2 linked regions of the Homo sapiens genome follow. The protein of the gene in region 2 purifies or fractionates together with the protein of the main gene of each other region. This does not show direct contact. Each region holds a gene or a part of one and is shown on either strand. Other genes may lie near its edges.

Region 1 (3,722 bases), on a different chromosome or scaffold from region 2:
TTTTAGAACAAAAGTGTAATTAAATGAGAAGCTTTGAGCTATACTCTATCTCATAAGTAGCATAATATTTCATTTGACTCTCTCTCTCTCTCTTTCTTTTTTATTTTTATGAGACATAGTCTCGCTGTGTTGCCCAGGCTAGAGTGCAGCGGCATGATCTCGGCTCACTGCAACCTCCGCCTCCGCGGTTCAAGCAATTCTCGTGCCCCAGCTGCCCAAGTAGCCAGGGTTAGAAGGCGTTCACCACCATGCTCGGCTAATTTTTGTATTTTTAGTGGAGACAGTGTTTAGCCATGTTGGTCAGGCTGGCCTCAACCTCCTAGCCTGAAGTGATCTGCCCACCTCGGCCTCCCAAAGTGCTGGCATTACAGGCATGAGCCACCACATCCAACCTCATTTGACTCTCCTGACAGTCTGGGAAGTTTAAGCAGGGAACCCAGCTGCAACTATCTAATGAATAATGGACAGTTTAGCATCTTAACTAATAAGGAATCTTGGGCTTAAGATATTCCCAACTTTATTACTGGGTTGTGACTAAGTTTCCTCTCCCACTTCCCCCCAACAAAAGGCTATATATACTCTATTAGCTTTTATATTTAAATGAAGGCAGATTGATTTTTTTTAAAAGACATTGAAGACACCCCTCAAACAAATGGAAGCACTCTGGGTTTTGGTAAAGCTGGTGTTAATCATATCTTTAGCTTCTTAACAAGGGGAAGAAATTACTTGTGGGCACTTTGGGTTTTTTTGTGCCATCAGTAATCCCCAGGGGAAAATGATACGTATATGTTTTTCCACAATCAGTTCAGGATACCAGGATATTAATGGTATACCTAAATCAACATACCAACAAACTAGCTAATGAGGTATTAATAGTATACCTATTAATAGGTAAACAGAAGTAAAATCATGTACCAACAAAACAAAGCAGTGATTGTTTAGAGAGGTGAATGGGATTTGTGCTAATTTGTAAAGTGTACTACCTTAGGCAAGCACTAGAAACAAATATTGAACACCTTAATATTTAGTTGTATATCAACTTACAGTTTACAAAGTTTTCCATACACAGGATCTCATTTGATTATTATAAAATCCCTAGGAATTAAGCAGGGCAGATATCATTATCTCAGTTGTTTACAAGTACATAAACAAGCTTACCAAAGTCAGGTAACTGTCCTGGGGATCACACAGCTAGAGAGTGGCTGGGATGTTTTAAAATTCAGATCTTGGTGAAGACAGATTCTGCGTTTTAACTCATGTAAAAGCAGAGACTGGCAGAGTTTACAACGTAGTATAATCTCACTGATTATTTGCTGAAGGTATGAATGTGTCTTGTGAGGCTATTTCAGAGTTCTTTCTAGTATACTATATAAGCCCACCCCAAAAAAACAAACTAAACAACTGAAGCCAAGTATGGAAGGTTGGGGATGGGATAAGGGGCAGGAATTATTCCCAGGAGGACTAGGAAATTCTAGACAAGGCAGCAGCTTCTGGAAATGTCAGTGTTTATTAAACATTTAAGGACATTTGGAGGTTTGAGAAGAAATATACAGAATGTAGAAAAATCCTAAGAATCCCCTGTGGCTGCAGTGCAGCCTCTTCCTCCCCCCCGCCCCCCCATTTCCCATTTGTTTTTCCTGCTTTTTGTTTGGTTGTTTAAAAACCATTTCTTAAGGCTCATTTGCCCCCTCCCCCACTCCCTGACCTATGAGGATCCATTCTCTCTCTCTGTCTCTCTCCTCAAGACCTGGAGTCCCAGAACAGTGCTCCAAAGTGGTCAGGGGGAACCAATGCTATACTGAAGTGTGAGGATCAGGGGCCCCTCTACTTGGGCTGGCTCTTCATTAAGGACTTAAGGGGGGCGTGAATTGCAAAAGCCACATGACGTCATTGGTCCTCAGTCATGGGTGTAAGGGCAGAGGATGAGCACAGGTAAACAAACAAAGAATGGATTAAAAAATAAAAAATAATAACCTAAATAAACCCTGAAGGAGAGTCTGATCTGGGTGCTCTGGGTATTAGCTGGGGGGACAGAGTATGGAGCTGGGCCACCTGGTAGAGGGGAGGGAGGGACGGGAGAGGAAACAGCCAGGGGGACAGGCTGGGGGATGCAGGAGATGGGAATGCCAGGTGGCCTGGACTTGAGGCAGAGGGTATCAAAGTCCCTTTCTTCTCAGTGCTCAGGTGGACAGGCACCAAACACACAGCCCCCGGGGCAGGTGAGGGGTAGGATTAGCTCCTGGGCTCCCAGAAAGCCAGGGGTGAAGGTGGGGGAGAATACAATTGCCTGGGGAATGAATTCTGGAATGAAACTTACATCTCAAAGGGAGGTGAGGGCAGGGCAGGGCGGGGGAGCAAAGAGGGAAAGCACCTAGACGGGGGTAAGAGGAGCCTAGGTCCCCCTGCTCTGGCAGGGCCTGGGGTGGGGGGGTGGCGATCACTTGTCCGAGTTCAGGCCCATCATGTTCTTGAGGGCGTTTTTGAGGCTGGTTCTGCTGGGGGACTTGACAGCAGGCCGGAGCTCCGGGCTCTGCTCATCCTTTCGTAGCTCCATCTCGATGACCATCACCTTTGGGCCTTTGGCGGACTCCACCCCTAACCCCCGATCCCCCGCCCGGCCCGCTAACCGCTATTTCTTATCCTTGCGAGACTCCCCCAGCCCCTTGGCCTTCTTCTCACTGACAGCTTTGGTGCTTCTGCTGTGGTCCAGCATTGCATACAGCACTGGCGTCTGGGGGAGGGGCGCACACATCAGTCACCGAGCGACTGGGGCTTGACTGTTCCCATCCCACCCCTCACTGCTGCCCGGCGGCTCCCAGGGTTCTCCTTCCCATCTTGTCTAGGCCCCAAGTCCCGCTAACCTGCCGCCCGCGCTTCGACGCGTCCTTTCCTGGCTTGTGCAATTTCCCCTTCTCCATAGCACTGCAAGAAGAGAGACTGCTGTACGTTTGGCCTCGCCGGAACCCCTTGCACCGCGGACACAGCTTCCTCTTCCCCTTGGCCCTCCCACCCACTGGAGTAGTCTCCGCCCAGATGGGGGATAGTGGGGAGAGGGGGAGGGGAGCTAGGCTCCGCCCCTTACCTGAGCCTCCTCTGCAGGGCCGCCTGCCTGCGTAGCCAGCAGTACCGAACCACGTAGAAAAGCAGCAGCAGCAACAGCACCACCCCGAGGACACCCCCGATCACAGCTCCCAGAACGACCCCGTACCTAGTTGGCACTAGGAGGGGTGGGAAAAGAAGTGGGAGAATGAGCAGGGCCCTGTATCTGTGGTTCCTAGTCCGAGTGTATGCCCTGCATTGAGGATGTAGGACTCCCAGCTAAAACTGCCTTCTGCCCACGCTCCCAGAGCCTGAATAAAGGTCCTTAGGCCGGGCTTTTTGCCTCTTCCCCCAACCTATCAGTCCTCCCTGATCCCCTCCCAAACTGCTTCCCATACCCTTGTCCCCATCCCTTCTCACACCTTTTTCAAAGACATACAGCGTGACCTGAGAGGTCTTGCCCACTATGTCTGGAGGGTTTTTGACGTCACAAGTGAACGTGCCATTGTCACTGTAGTCTAGGTTGTGTATGACAATGGAGCCATCCTTCCAGCGAGGGTCCCCTACCCACTGGATGCGCTCTTTGAAGGTCCCCACCTCGTCAATGTAGGGTTGTCCCTTGGCATAGTGGAAGATCTATGAGGAATGAGGGGAAGCATGTGAGAGGACCCTAATGAGAACAC
Region 2 (5,478 bases):
CTCTGTGCCCAGGCTGGAGTGCAGTGGTGTGATCTTGGCTCACTACAACCTCCACCTCCTGAGTTCAAGCGATTCTCTGCCTCAACCTCCCAAGTAGCTGGGACTATAGGTGTCCACCAGCACACCTGGCCAATTTTTTTGTATTTTTCGTAGAGATGGGGTTTTGGCATGTTGGCCAGGCTGGTCTTGAACTCCTGGCCTCAAGTGATCTACCTGCCTCAGCCTCCCAAAATGTCTTAATCAAAGATAAAATTCCATATCTTATGAGTGCCTTGAACCCATTCACATATAATGTGGTTGATGATAGACTTACTATCTTAATGCATGTGTTTTATTTATTGTGCTTATGGTTGAAAACCATCTTCTTCATCTCTGGATCATCAGAGTCAACCAGAGGGCTTGGCTCAAAGCAGTAGGTATTCAACAAATGCTCATTGAATAAAAATGTCCTTGATCCTCTAATTCTGATTTGATTCGAGAAATAACTTATGGCAAAGAGCTCAATTGTAATGGGGTTGGGACTAAAATTCAAGTTAATGTTGAAAGATGTTTCAAGAAGTATTTAGGTTATATTATTAAATATTAGACACTTTCTGTTTATATAGATTTAACATATAAAGATTTTAAGTTTTCTGTGTATGTGAGGTCTCGTAGTAGTTTCTGCTGAAAATGACAGGGGCGCGGGGTTAAGGGTGAAGACAGTATCTCAGGATTGGAGAAGGAAATCTAAGATATTGTCTCCACCAGCCATACTCCTCATGAACATGCACATGGAAGGACATTTCCCAGCCAAAGTGAATCCCTTTATTTGTTTTAGTTTCAGATTTGAGTCTCAGATTTCTTTGTAATTCCAGCTGCATCTACCAAAGTGCTAGATAATTTTTTTATTTTAAGCAAACAATATTATGAGAACATTATCTTTATTGCAAAGTGCTCCTCCAGAAGAACCTCTATGCTGGATAAAGACAAACATTTGATTAAGGTTATGTAAGAGTGAAATCAGGATGGCTCACAACCCATTAGCCGTCATTTTCTTACTTTAATTGACAAAGAAATTGAAAAAATGAAAGAAGCATATGTTGTGCTTGAATGTGAAGAGTGCTAGACTAGAATCAAAGGCCTCTTAGATTTGGCTGTGTCATTTGGGCTCATGAAAACACCTCTGGAAATCTCTTTCAGTGCAAAGGAGCTGGACTAGTTGATCTCTCAGGTTTCTTCCAACTCTAAAATATCTCCAGTCTGTGCCTTGGAAACATCTTAGGTGAAAATCTAGGAACAGTTAACCTAATTTGCACCCTTAAAATTCTGCCATGAGCTGCTTACAACTCAAAACAAGTTTATCTTACTCAGTTACTAATTATAAACCATCCAGATTTCAGAGCTGTGAGTACTGGGTGAAGCATTGAAGGTATGCTTTTGAAGCCATTACATATGGCAGTTACTGAGCTGAAAGGATTAAATGCTGCAGCTTCCCCAGTTGCCCTTCCTCCATGAGAGCAGTGCCTGCCCCCAGCATTCTGTGGCACTTGGAAGACAAGACAGAGGCCAAATGCAGATTTTTACCCTGGGCTTCCCTCTACAGTGTGGAACTCAGGTTGTTTCTTCTTTCCTCCCTGAAATGACATGAGTTTGCAGCGGATGGTGAACTGAAGAAACCATAGGAGGCTCTGTCTTCTTGCCTGAATTTCAGTTGGAAGCTTGGAGATTTGGGGTTCAACAGAGATAAGGAAGTGTAAGCCTTCATCCCGTCTGGTGGTTGGCGATCACACACCGCTCTGTGCTGAGGCTAATGGCCATGATCAGAGTTGACCAAAAAAAAAAAAAAAAAAAAATACGGGTTGTCCAAGCAAATTGATTTCCATACCTATAGAGAGCATACCTTTCTTCATCAGTATTTTCTTCCATTCTTCCAAAAAATTACTTTGGGCTCTAACAGCCATTCCCGTGATCTTTACCTCTCCTTGGGGAATGCAGATAATTTGAATAGTGGTTTTAAGCTATTTTTCTTGGAATACAGAAGTTCTGATAAGCCCTTCAAAGACCCCTGAGGGCAAGAAGAGGGAAGGTAGTAGGCAGGGCTCAGGCCCTCTTTAACACAGACACATGTACATAAGTAACACATTTGCACCAACACTGGAAGGAAATTCAATATATTTTAAAATGACTTTAACTCCTAGTGATGGAACTATAGATATTTTTTTACAGCCCTTCCCTGAATGTTCACATGTGTTTTTTATATATATGTGTGTGTCACGTATTTGTATATGTGTATATACACATATATATAGAAACACGTACATATTTGTATGCATATTTGTACATATAGGTATATATGTATGTAATGTGTACATATTGGCACATGTGTGTGTTTGTATATGTATATATCAGTACATATAGATGTATGTATATATGTATATATTTTTTCCTCCAAAATAAACAATAAAGAATGTCTTCTTAGATTGCAAAAGTGAATTGTCTGAGTTCTGCTAAGGAAAAAGGACTTCTGCTTCTGCTGCCTGTGAGGACTGTGCTGTCAGCAGTCATGGCCCTTCAGGCCCTGCACCTCGAGGCAGAGCCCTCCCCCGGCCATGGCCAGCTCTCCTAACCAAGTGTCTCTTTCCCCCAGAATGGCTGCAGTCTGTCCAGGCCACCATGATCCTGTCGATCATCTTCAGCATTCTGTCTCTGTTCCTGTTCTTCTGCCAACTCTTCACCCTCACCAAGGGGGGCAGGTTTTACATCACTGGAATCTTCCAAATTCTTGCTGGTAAGTTGTGGATGGTAAAGTCCATGTGGAAGCGGGGTGCATCCAAGTCTGCGGAATGATTAGTTTAGTAGAAGGATGTGGCCTCAGAATGACTGATGTTCATGAGTCTCCCCACTGGATGCTTTCCATAAAGTGAGGGTGGGTGCTTGTATGTGTGGGTGTGTACCTGTATGTGTCTTAGAACTTGGGACTTAGAACTCTCCCCTTCTCCCTGGAATGAGATGCATATGAAAGAGAACTTAGAGGATCTGGAAGGAAGGTCCCCACCCAAGCCAGGCGTATCAACAGGAATGAAACTGCAATCTGGACACATAATCAGAGGTGAATACTGAGGCTATCTGTAGAGCAAAGGTCAGGCTTGAGAGCTGTTTCTGTAGATTACATTATGCCTCCAGAAAATGGCCCTGATGTGCTAAGAACTAGCAAAGTAGTTATCAGGTATGTGTCTTCCACCAATAGGTAGTGATGAAGCCACACTGACAAATTCTCACCTTCCTTGCTTCCAGTTCCTAGATTCTACTGGGCTTTGATTGACTGTTGTCATCCTCTGGTGTCTTCATTTTGACACTCTTGTGTCACATATTGTCATTTCCAAACATGGGGCTATGACAACACATGAAAACACATGAGAGGTCTCCTTAATCTCCTGCCTAAACTGTCTTCAAGTTCCCTCTTTAAATACGTTATTAATATGCATAGTGTGCAGAGTCCTAGAAACTTCTGTTACACAGGGTGACATCTTCCAACTTTGTCTCTGGATTCTGCCTAGCATCTTACATGCTTACATCTTACATCTTACATCTTACATCTTGCATTCTGCCTAGCATCTTACATTAGCTCTTACATGTCTGTCTGTTGACTTACTGTTGACTGAACCAGCAGGGCATTGGAGAGAAGTAAGAGCTAGATGTAGTGGTGGATTCTGTGGTCCAAATTCATAGATCACAAACTTCATATGTACCAGAGTATGTCTAGGTACTGGGAGATGTTCTCAATTCTGACCCTCTGAGAGGGCAAAGGATGTAGCATCTCTTCTCTGAGTTGGTTGTCAGAATGCCCATGGTACCATTTCACCACTCTGTCCCCAGGAGCAGTCATTGGAAGGTTGACGTAAATAGGGTTGTATGGGAAGACACAGCCCAAGGTTAGATGTTGGTGACCTTGTCTAGAAGACAGAGAGTTCCCCTTTCCTGAAAAAAGGAAGTAAATGATTAACCACTTCTCATTAAACACTCAAATACAACATTTCAATACTCATGGTTTTGAGATTTCAAAACCAGACAGTGCTTTGCTACTTACACATGTCTTATGACACCAAGCCAAGCTCCTGGATGGTTGCTGGCTCTGTTAAATGACTAATTATGCAAGGAGATATCATTTCTAGGTACGTTAAAGTGAAGAGTTACCCTTACTCAATTTTCAGTTGGAATAAAAACAACTGTAACATATTCTGGGGTTTCTTTTTTTTTTTCTCACTCGTTTTAGTTTGATATCAAATCAAATAATGATCATATCCATTGCATCAGTGGATATGCCCTCAAGATAATATGGATTTAGAACCAGAACTTTCATAATGTATTTCTATTGAAATGTTAGTTTCATAAGCGATGATTGGGTTTTCATGCCCATGTGTGAGATGTGCCTCGCTCAAACCTTGTTATGATTTGGCACGTTACCCATCTGATGTGAAAAAAATTACATTTTATTTGTACAGGCTCGTTATTTTACTGATGAATAATTTGAGCCCACCAGAGGATAAATGAATGACCAAGGTCACCCAGCTCATGACAGGGACGGTTGAGTGTTACACTGAATATAGTGAGGTACTTCTTATATTTTAAAGACAGAATGCACCAAAAAATTTAAAGAACACAAAATCCAAGGCAGAAGCTCTGCCTTTTATATTATCTTTTATTGGAACTGATTTACAATGGAAGGTAAATGCAAATTTGCACCATGTATTATTCTGAAGTTCCAAACATCTGTGATGAATACAAGCCTGTACTATAAGACCCAGTCACATTGAAAATATGGAGCTGAGAAGAGGTAAGCTGCTGTTGAATGGGCTCCTTGGGATAGCCAGTACCTTCATCTTCATTCATCCTGCTGAGCTGTTTCGGCTTTAAGTTCTTTAACAATGTCTTTTTAGCAACATCATTACATCATTTTAGGCCAAAACTCAAAGTCCAGAGATAAGAACCCTTAAGTCACTCATGTAACTGCACTGTGTGTTAAAAGTATTTCAGTTCAGCCAAACACTCTTCTCCTAGGTATTGCGATTTAAGTATATTTACTAATCCACTCTTGCTTCACTATTTTCATTCTCCTCCAAAGTCAATACAAGATGTTTAGAACTGTGCTGGAAGTGCAGAATTCCGAATGTAAAAGCGCATGACTTTGTCCTCTTTATCCCCTTTACATCTAGCTGCTTACGTCTCATGAAACTGAATTTTCAGTTATCTGTTGGTCCACATTTGAATAAGAAATTATCTTGAATTTGAAATGCTGAGCTGTAATAGCAGTTGTAATTTGTAAGTCCTGAGAGTGTCCTGTCCTCCGTTGTTAATCCCAGTCAAGATCATCTGAGAGTTGGTCTCCAGGGAACCTCAGATCTCTAGGATGTTGCACTGGAAATGGCTGCAGGATCTTTCCACTAATTCTGAGAACTGAAAGAGTTAGGAACTCTATTTGGAGAGTTCCTGGTTCCCTTA

Evidence for each region. Proteins that work in one complex are often made in the same cells at the same time.
Region 1: the proteins of PMP22 (region 2) and MPZ purify together in Homo sapiens (affinity purification with western blotting; one study listed by BioGRID). This does not show direct contact.

What each region holds. Positions count from the first base shown.
Region 1 is NC_000001.11:161,303,247-161,306,968, forward strand, and holds the end of MPZ (myelin protein P0 isoform MPZ precursor), read right to left. Parts: intron 3,676-3,722; coding exon 3,462-3,675; intron 3,219-3,461; coding exon 3,083-3,218; intron 2,923-3,082; coding exon 2,862-2,922; intron 2,732-2,861; coding exon 2,630-2,731; coding exon of another isoform or gene 2,438-2,629; 3' UTR 1,489-2,437; downstream 1-1,488. UniProt on the Homo sapiens protein: Is an adhesion molecule necessary for normal myelination in the peripheral nervous system. It mediates adhesion between adjacent myelin wraps and ultimately drives myelin compaction.
Region 2 is NC_000017.11:15,236,760-15,242,237, reverse strand, and holds part of PMP22 (peripheral myelin protein 22), read left to right. Parts: intron 1-2,626; coding exon 2,627-2,767; intron 2,768-4,356; exon of another isoform or gene 4,357-4,453; intron 4,454-5,478. UniProt on the Homo sapiens protein: Might be involved in growth regulation, and in myelinization in the peripheral nervous system.